Linked DNA regions of Homo sapiens. The protein of the gene in region 2 interacts with the protein of the main gene of each other region in a pairwise test. Each region holds a gene or a part of one and is shown on either strand. Other genes may lie near its edges.

The links.
Region 1: the proteins of MAP2K6 (region 2) and CCND2 come close enough for resonance energy transfer, tested with the Homo sapiens proteins (one large-scale study listed by BioGRID).

What each region holds. Positions count from the first base shown.
Region 1 is NC_000012.12:4,276,535-4,280,352, reverse strand, and holds part of CCND2 (G1/S-specific cyclin-D2), read right to left. Parts: intron 1,594-3,818; coding exon 1,434-1,593; intron 1-1,433. UniProt on the Homo sapiens protein: Regulatory component of the cyclin D2-CDK4 (DC) complex that phosphorylates and inhibits members of the retinoblastoma (RB) protein family including RB1 and regulates the cell-cycle during G(1)/S transition.
Region 2 is NC_000017.11:69,550,515-69,554,501, forward strand, and holds the end of MAP2K6 (dual specificity mitogen-activated protein kinase kinase 6), read left to right. Parts: 3' UTR 1-3,351; downstream 3,352-3,987. UniProt on the Homo sapiens protein: Dual specificity protein kinase which acts as an essential component of the MAP kinase signal transduction pathway.

The DNA.
Region 1 (3,818 bases), on a different chromosome or scaffold from region 2:
AAGCCTGCAAGTGCAGAACACACAGGTCCTGCTAGAAACACGTAAGGGCAGCCAGAAAAGGAAAGCCATCATATCCACTTTAGTCGGAACAGTTAAAATCAGGGTGAAAATCGGAGATGGTAGCATTTTCACAATTAGTGAAGGTCCAACCTACACTTCGGTTTACAAAGCACGTCCACGTGCATCACCTCTTTCTGATTTTAATTTTCCTAGCTGCTCTGAAAAGGCTGTAGGATGATGTATCAATAGGCTTGTTTTGGAGATGAAGAAGCTCGGGTTCAGAGAGGTTAAGCAGCCAATTAAAGGTCACTCACTGATATGCAGCAAAGCCTGACTTTTTGACTGTGAGCACAGGGCATATGCACTACATCGTACGTTATATAATCATCCGTTCCGTAGAACTCACCAGTAACATGTAACAACATCCTGAAAAAAGTTACCACGTGAGTCCACCTAGCGATTTAACTACTCTTGGCAAATTTGAGGTGAAGCACACCGAAAGGTCTTCCCAAGTGATCAGCTTTTTACCTAAGGTTTCTGATTGTCAAAACATGAACTCCTGACATCTCTCCCTTGGATGAGTAAGGTTCCAGGGTCTCTGCCATGGCCACTACCAAGAAAAAAAAAAACAAAAAACCAGTAGACACTGGCCAAGGCTGTTTAATAAGACAACAGCAAACCACTGCCTTTGGTTTATTAGGAAACTACAAAACAAATGGGCCAGTAGGAATGATGTATCAATTGTGGGATCCACGTGGTAGGCGGAATTGCAACGTTAAAGGCTGCGGCCAAAATCAAAACACCTCCACATGAACTGAGGGCATCAGAACCCAGCGCTCAGAAAGTAAAGCCTCACCGAAAGCCAACCAGGTTCCCTCCCGCGCCCAGTGGGGCAAACAGCTAGAGAAGCAAACAGCTAGAAGGCCATAAATGCCCTACAGTAAAAAAAAAAAAAAAAGAATTTCTTTGGTCTCCCTTACCACTAATCAAGGCAGGCAGCATATTTATCTTGACGTTGTTCCTTTAACCTGTATTTGCCCCCATCCCCCTCGAGATTTCCTCTTGGGCTTATCTCCAAGCCATCCTTTTCCTTAAAAGATTAAAGATTTGAACACAACCAGTGAGCAGTATATGTAATCTTCAAAGAGCACTTTAGCCATCATAAAGAATATTTTAACAGGCACTAATTTTTTTTGCCTTAACCACACCTGTCCTCATAAACCATTTATGAGTTTAGCAGAGAAAGCGAATATATAAAGCTCAGATAAAGAAAAAGCAACCCAGGAATGAAACTTCAGACTTTAGACTACTCAAGACCACCCCTCCTCCAAACTCCTGAACTAAAATGAAAGTTCCTACGGCCTTTTGCCTCTCCCCGGACATCTCCCAAAAGAGCTCCCCCATCTCCCTCCCCGGCTCAAGCCTCATCTTACCGGTGGCACACAGAGCAATGAAGGTCTGAGCATGCTTGCGGATCAGAGACAGCTTCTCCCGCTGCTGGGGCAGCTTGCGCAAGATGTGCTCAATGAAGTCATGAGGAGTGACAGCTGCCAGGTTCCACTTCAACTTCCCCAGCACCACCAGTTCCCACTCCTGGAGGGGAAGGCAGGAAGAGAAGAGGAGAATCTAAATTCCACAGGCTGACCTGGTGTAGGGGGCTGGGGGTTGGGCTCCAGACCAGTTTTAAGGCCGCTCATTAGGACGTGGCTGCTAGATTGTAAGGCGGGCCCATTTGTCAATGTGCCCCTGAAGCTTTGAAGTTGTTGACAGCTCTTCTTATGCTTCAAATGTCAGGCTCCACTGAAAATAATGAGAGCCCAGGTAGCTGTTGCCAAGATTCTATTTTCTTCTACTTCGTTTCCACTCCAGCTCCCCTTACCCCCTCCCAACCCTGACTTGCAGGCAATACTGCTTCCCGCCCACCCAGAAAGCTGAACCTACAATGAGATACGGCCAAGGTCATTGTGGCCCTTTCATGGTAATTTATTGTATATGTCTCTATCACCGAATTAATAGTCTTTTTAATCTTCATGGAAAAATGATGCACACAGATAAAGCTCAAAATAAGGTTCCTTGGCCCAACTCCTTGGCAACCAATTAGCTTGCTTTTACTTAGTGCCAAAAAGTGCCTTTATCTCTCTGCTGCTCAAACTCCCCTTTTACATATCAGGCAGAAATTCTGGGGATGTGACACTCAGCCCTTTCCCCTAAATGTTTCACAGGCCATTGTCATCATGACTAAAGGACCACATGGTCATTAGCAACCTCATTTTGCAGATGGAGGTGATCTGGGGCAAGGTGAGGGTGCCTGCTCAGTGTCACAGCATCCCTCAGTGCAAGTGTGGGGACCACACAACCCTGTCTCTTGGGTCTCTCACCAGCAACCCACCTGAAAAAGAACCTTGTTTCCCTCTTTCACTGAGATACTTACGGGAAACTGTGCTCAAAGGGAAACGGTCCAAAATAAAACATTAAAAATATCGTATGTGCTACCAGAAAATATGCCTATCCACTGAGCTGTCATCAGAAGAATGAGAGGCAGGGCCTGTTTGCCAATGCACCCTCTCTCCCATTCACCTGGAGAACCTGGAATCTCTTTCATTTGCTAAACCAGCAACCAGAGCACCAGTCCCACAGCTGTGGGGCTGGGGGTGATTCCCTTTCCCTCCCAGGCCTCAGCCTTCTCATTTGTAAAATAGGACTCTTCCAAATCCCAACTTCTGGGATAAAGGGAATAGGAAAAAGCCAAGTTTGTTTGTAGCAATATATTGCTTGGCTAGTCCTGGAAAGATTTGGGTGTCCTGAAGAACATCTCAATTCACCATCCTCTCGAAACAAATGAACCATATGAAGATGATTTTTCCTGCTCTCTCATGAGAAAAACAAATTGGTTCCCAATTCTAACAATGTTTTCTTCATAAGCTTTAAAATCTGCCTTGGCTTTCTGTGTACAGCCGGGGTAAAGCACCCCAATAAACTACTAAACCACCATCATCTTCAAAGATGGCTTGAAATGCCAGCCCTTCCTCTTCACAGGGTAATGCGAGTACGAACCACTGGTCTTGCACCGTTATTAAAGGAAGCAGATCTCCCAGAAGAAAGCACCTTTCTAGGCCTCTCGGACCAAACCAGAAGCAGCTAAAACCTGGCAGCGGTTCAAAGGTGAAGTCATTCAGGCCCCTCTCCACATTCTCGGCAATTCCTCCCCCAACCTTGTGCATGTCTTCCACTAGATGGCAGCAGAGCCCCAGAAAGGAAGGCTCCTCACAAAGAGCTCAGTTCAAGAAGCCAGCCTCAGCCCTGTGGACTTTGTGCGGGCCCTACCAGTGAGGAGGGGGAGGGGCGGGAAGGAGGGGGTGCTTTTCTGAACAGTGCAAAGAGGGGTGTGCAAACCACCGAAGGTGGGCCTTGGAGCCGCTATTCCATGCGGTACAGCTGCAATATGGTCGTCTTATATGTCAAGCTGCAGGGAAAAGGAGTTAGATCAGGTGGGAAAAAGGTTCCCTGGTAGAAAAGCAGAGATAAGACAGGATCCCTGGGGTTGTACAGAGGTCACAGTCCCACTGGAGGTAGGAACCCAGGCCTCGGACTCCTTCAGTGAAAGGCCACATTTTGACTTTGCTCAAAAGTCAATGAACTGATATTTAGTGAACAGCTATTATGTGTTGGTATCTTGAGACTTTGTAGATATAGAGGGCATTACCTTTGAACTCCAAGTTTTTAGGAGACACCACAGCCACATACCTATCATGTGAACACGTTCTCAGACTATTTTTGGAAATTTGGAATTTAATTAAAATATTATCACTGTTAATTAA
Region 2 (3,987 bases):
AGCTAGTTTGAAGTTTCAGAAGCCATGAATTATGGGGAAGGAGTAGTTTTTTATTTTATTTTATTTTTCTGATCTCAAGTTGTTTGTCCTGTTGTATGTTCAATACTTGGGGAGATAAGAGCGAGGTACAGCTGTGGTTTTCAGACCATATTCAGTGGTGCCCCTGAGGGTCTCTTGTGAACAGAAGGGAAAAAGAGTGTGATGAAGGTGAACTCTGCCTATCTGAACCTCTGTCAACCTCCAGTCAGAATATCTGGCTTCTAGTATTGTTCCTTTTAACTGGAAGTCTCTGTGGCCATTAAAAACTTGGGAACGTTGGATTAAATGACCACTTTAGGACTTTAAACAGTCTCAAATATGGGAAATTTTATAGCCAACCACGGCTGTGAGTCCCTGGCTTTTGCCGTACTGAGTATGCTCACAGAGATAGGGAGATAGGTGGCCAGAAGACAGGGTCATTTAATTTTAATTGAGCATAAATCATTTTGAAAGAAAAATGCAAGGAATTGTTGTATGACAGCCATGCATTATAGATCCTTACATGCGACATTTTCCTAAAGTGGTTGAGAATGACCTGATCTTTGTTCACCGTCTCAGTGACAAGGCGTGGAGTGACTGGGCTCTTCATATGCAGTGGAATTTTTGCATCTCTAGGTTTGCAGAGGCAGGAGTTACCGTTTTTGTTCATTGACCTATCAGAAAAAAGCAAATCCTTTGGACAATGTTGACACAGACAGGGGTACGGTCTGAGACTCAAGCTAACAGAGCTACCCCTTGCTGCCTTTTGCAAAGGTGTTGTAGGTGGAGAAGGGTAATGGAAACCTGGTACAGCCTTTAGAAGTTGGAAGCTATGGTGGTGTATCTGTCATGAACTGCACACAAGGGAATGCTTAAACACCAGCTGAGTCATATCAGGTGCCTTGTACACACACATAAAGAGTCTGGTGAATTCTGACAGTGTTCTGTTTGCCACTAGAGCAAATTTAATAGCTGGGGTTTCACAGCAACTGTTTTAGAAAACTATATGTGCCAAAAATTTACATTGGGCAGCAGTTTATAGTGTTCTTGGCCAATCTGCATAAAAGCCACTTGAGGAGGTTTGATTAAGAAAATTGTGTTTATCTCCTGTATTACCTCTGTGTTTGATTTATTCTTTAGTCTCAAATTTATTTTCTGAGTGGACTGATTTTCTATATGAACTGAAATGATGTTTTAATAGAATAATAGGTATTTTTAGAGGAAAAGTATTTTTTTGTGTAATTTGCTTACACAACTAGGACATACTTCCTATGATACTGAATCATCAAATTGAGTCATTTAAAGCTGAAAGAGGTGTTAGGAATGTAGTTTCACATTATTTAAATACATGAACAGTTTTCTATATATTTTGTGAAAATCTTGATGAGACACTAGAATTTCTTTATGGAATTGAACTTTACAAGAATTTTAATAAAAGAGGTGGATTTCTTCAGCTTTCTTTGTGCTTCAGTTTCATAGCTGAAAATGCTGCTTCCGTTTATTAATATGGACTTTGTAAGGAAACACAACAACACGTTTTCTTACCTTCTGTAAATTTTGTGATAGACACATGTTATTTGTATATATGATTGATTGTTTGCCTGTTGCACCCTAAAGTTATTTTCAAACCATGTTTATTGCAAAGAGAGCCTTTGGGCAAGTGGAAAATGCCCTGATGCTAGAATGAGGTAGTTCCATAAGCTAGTTAGGAGCTTGCTACCTCTTCTTGGTACCTGAAATATTCTGAAAGGATATCGGAGAGGTCCTATGCACCCCTGTCTTTCAAAACCCACCTCCAGCACTTCAAAGTAGTGTCTCTGGAGAGTTTAAAATAAAAGAATGAATGCTATTCAGTGGATTCCCTCATTGAGGCTCCCATCTTTCCTGCCAGGTGCAGCTTTTTCTGGTTGGAATCATCTCTTCTTTACGGATTGCCGCATTGTCTCTTTGTGAATGAGGCAGGCTGAACTGTAGAGCATGAAACTCATTAGAAGTTTATAAAGTAAAGACCTGTAAAGCATGTGGGTGGAATGTTTCCATGCTCTTGAGGTGAATATTAAATTTAAATTCTGGCCTTTGGGAACTCTTTGCTTGTGAGCTGAAGAAGGAAAGAAGGAGTTGGGGGTGTATATCTAACTGTGTTTTTCTATATGGAAATATATGAGCATCAAGTGATAACTTCAATAAGGCCTCAGGATTGTATTTAAAATACCTGTTTTGTGGGACAGCATGCCTTTGTTTTCTTTGCCTGTTGGCTTTGGTGGCTCCAAACATTTTCATTTTAGGCTAGCTTTCCTGTCACCCAGGTTGTGTGCATTTTTTTTTTCATTTGAACTATTGTTTATCATTATTAATGATGTTATCTCCAAATCCCAAAGCCAAGGAAATAGCCAGTATGCAGGACTTGCAGTAGATATAAGCATTGGTGTTAACATAGGTTAAGTTTTGTTAGTGTTCCCAGAAATATACTGAATTGAGGGATAATGTAGCTTTAAAGAAATTATGTTTCTTTTTAACATTTGGAGAAGCCACCTGTCCTGGGTCCCTATTCTTGAGAAATTCATCTTTTCATGCAAATAACATTGATGGGGGACAAGACTGGATGATTGACTTCTATCAGTCAGTAGACAAGGAAGTATAATAATTGCCAAAGGTGAGGGTAATTTTGCCTTACAAGTATGTAGGTCATTCTGTGGTGGGATTTCCCATCACATCTAGTAAAAAACAACCTTTTCATTTCCCTCCTTTCTAATCCAAGATCATATTTTTAAAAAGTAGGTTTCTGATGTGCCATGAAATATTTCTGTGAATCTGTGTTTTTGACCAAGGAAACAGCTGAGATATTAAACCATGTGGTTGTTCCACGGTTCATCTGGCTACCGTTCTGGGTCCCCTCTGACCACCTCAAAAAGAAAATGAAATTGGGAGATTAAATCAAGCTTGACCTCCTCTTTTAATGAGGAACTTTCACGTTGACTTCCTATCTCAGGATATTCTTCAGTTTCATACTGCTGAGGAGAAAGGAACAAGCTGCAGACACTGTAACTGGTCTCCAGATGTGTGTATATGCGTGTAAAACTTCACACCGTGTGTGTTGTGTTCAATGTTGTGTCAATCTACAAACTGACTCAAACAACAGTTTAACGATAGAGAAGACAGTGATAATGGCAAAAAAAACACCCAACCACCTTTTTCCGTCAAAGTGCTTGCTATGGCTTTCATAGCTGGGACAAGTAACATTAAGTATTCAGGAGCAAAGTGTTCTTGAAAGAAAATGGTGTGTTGATCTCATAAGAAAATGTACAACCAATAAAAGACATTTTAAAAAGCGTAGTGAGTCTGTACATTAATTGAGTTGTTGGAAACCCTATATTCCAGGAACATGGTATAAAAGGCTCTCCCGGTAAAAGCTTTCCTGGACTATATATTCTTGTTATTCTTTCTCTATGCTTTTCCTATTTCTACCACCGCACTTCCCAAACAGACTAGAACAAAACCTAACAACACAACAGTATTGCAGTCGTATTAGTCTGTTTTCATGCTGCTGATAAAAACATAACTGAGACTGTGCAATTAACGAAAGAAAGTGGTTTAATGTACTCACAGTTCCACGTGGCTGGGGAGGCTTCACAATCACAGTGTAAGACGAAAGGCATGTCTCAACATGGTGGTAGACAAGAGGAGAGAGAGAGCCCAGCAAAAGGGTAACCCCTCATAAGACCCTCAAATCTCTTGAGACTTACTCACTCTCATGAGAACAGTATGAGGGAAACTGCCTCCATGATTCAATTATCTCCCACTGGGTCCCTCCCACAACACATGGGAATTATGGGAGCTAAAATAATTTGGGTGGGGACACAGCCAAACCATATCAGCCGCCCTGAAGACTCATTAGAAAATCATTTCAAGGCCAAGCGTGGTGGCTCACACCTGTAGTCCTAGCACTTTGGGAGGCAGAGGCAGGCAGAT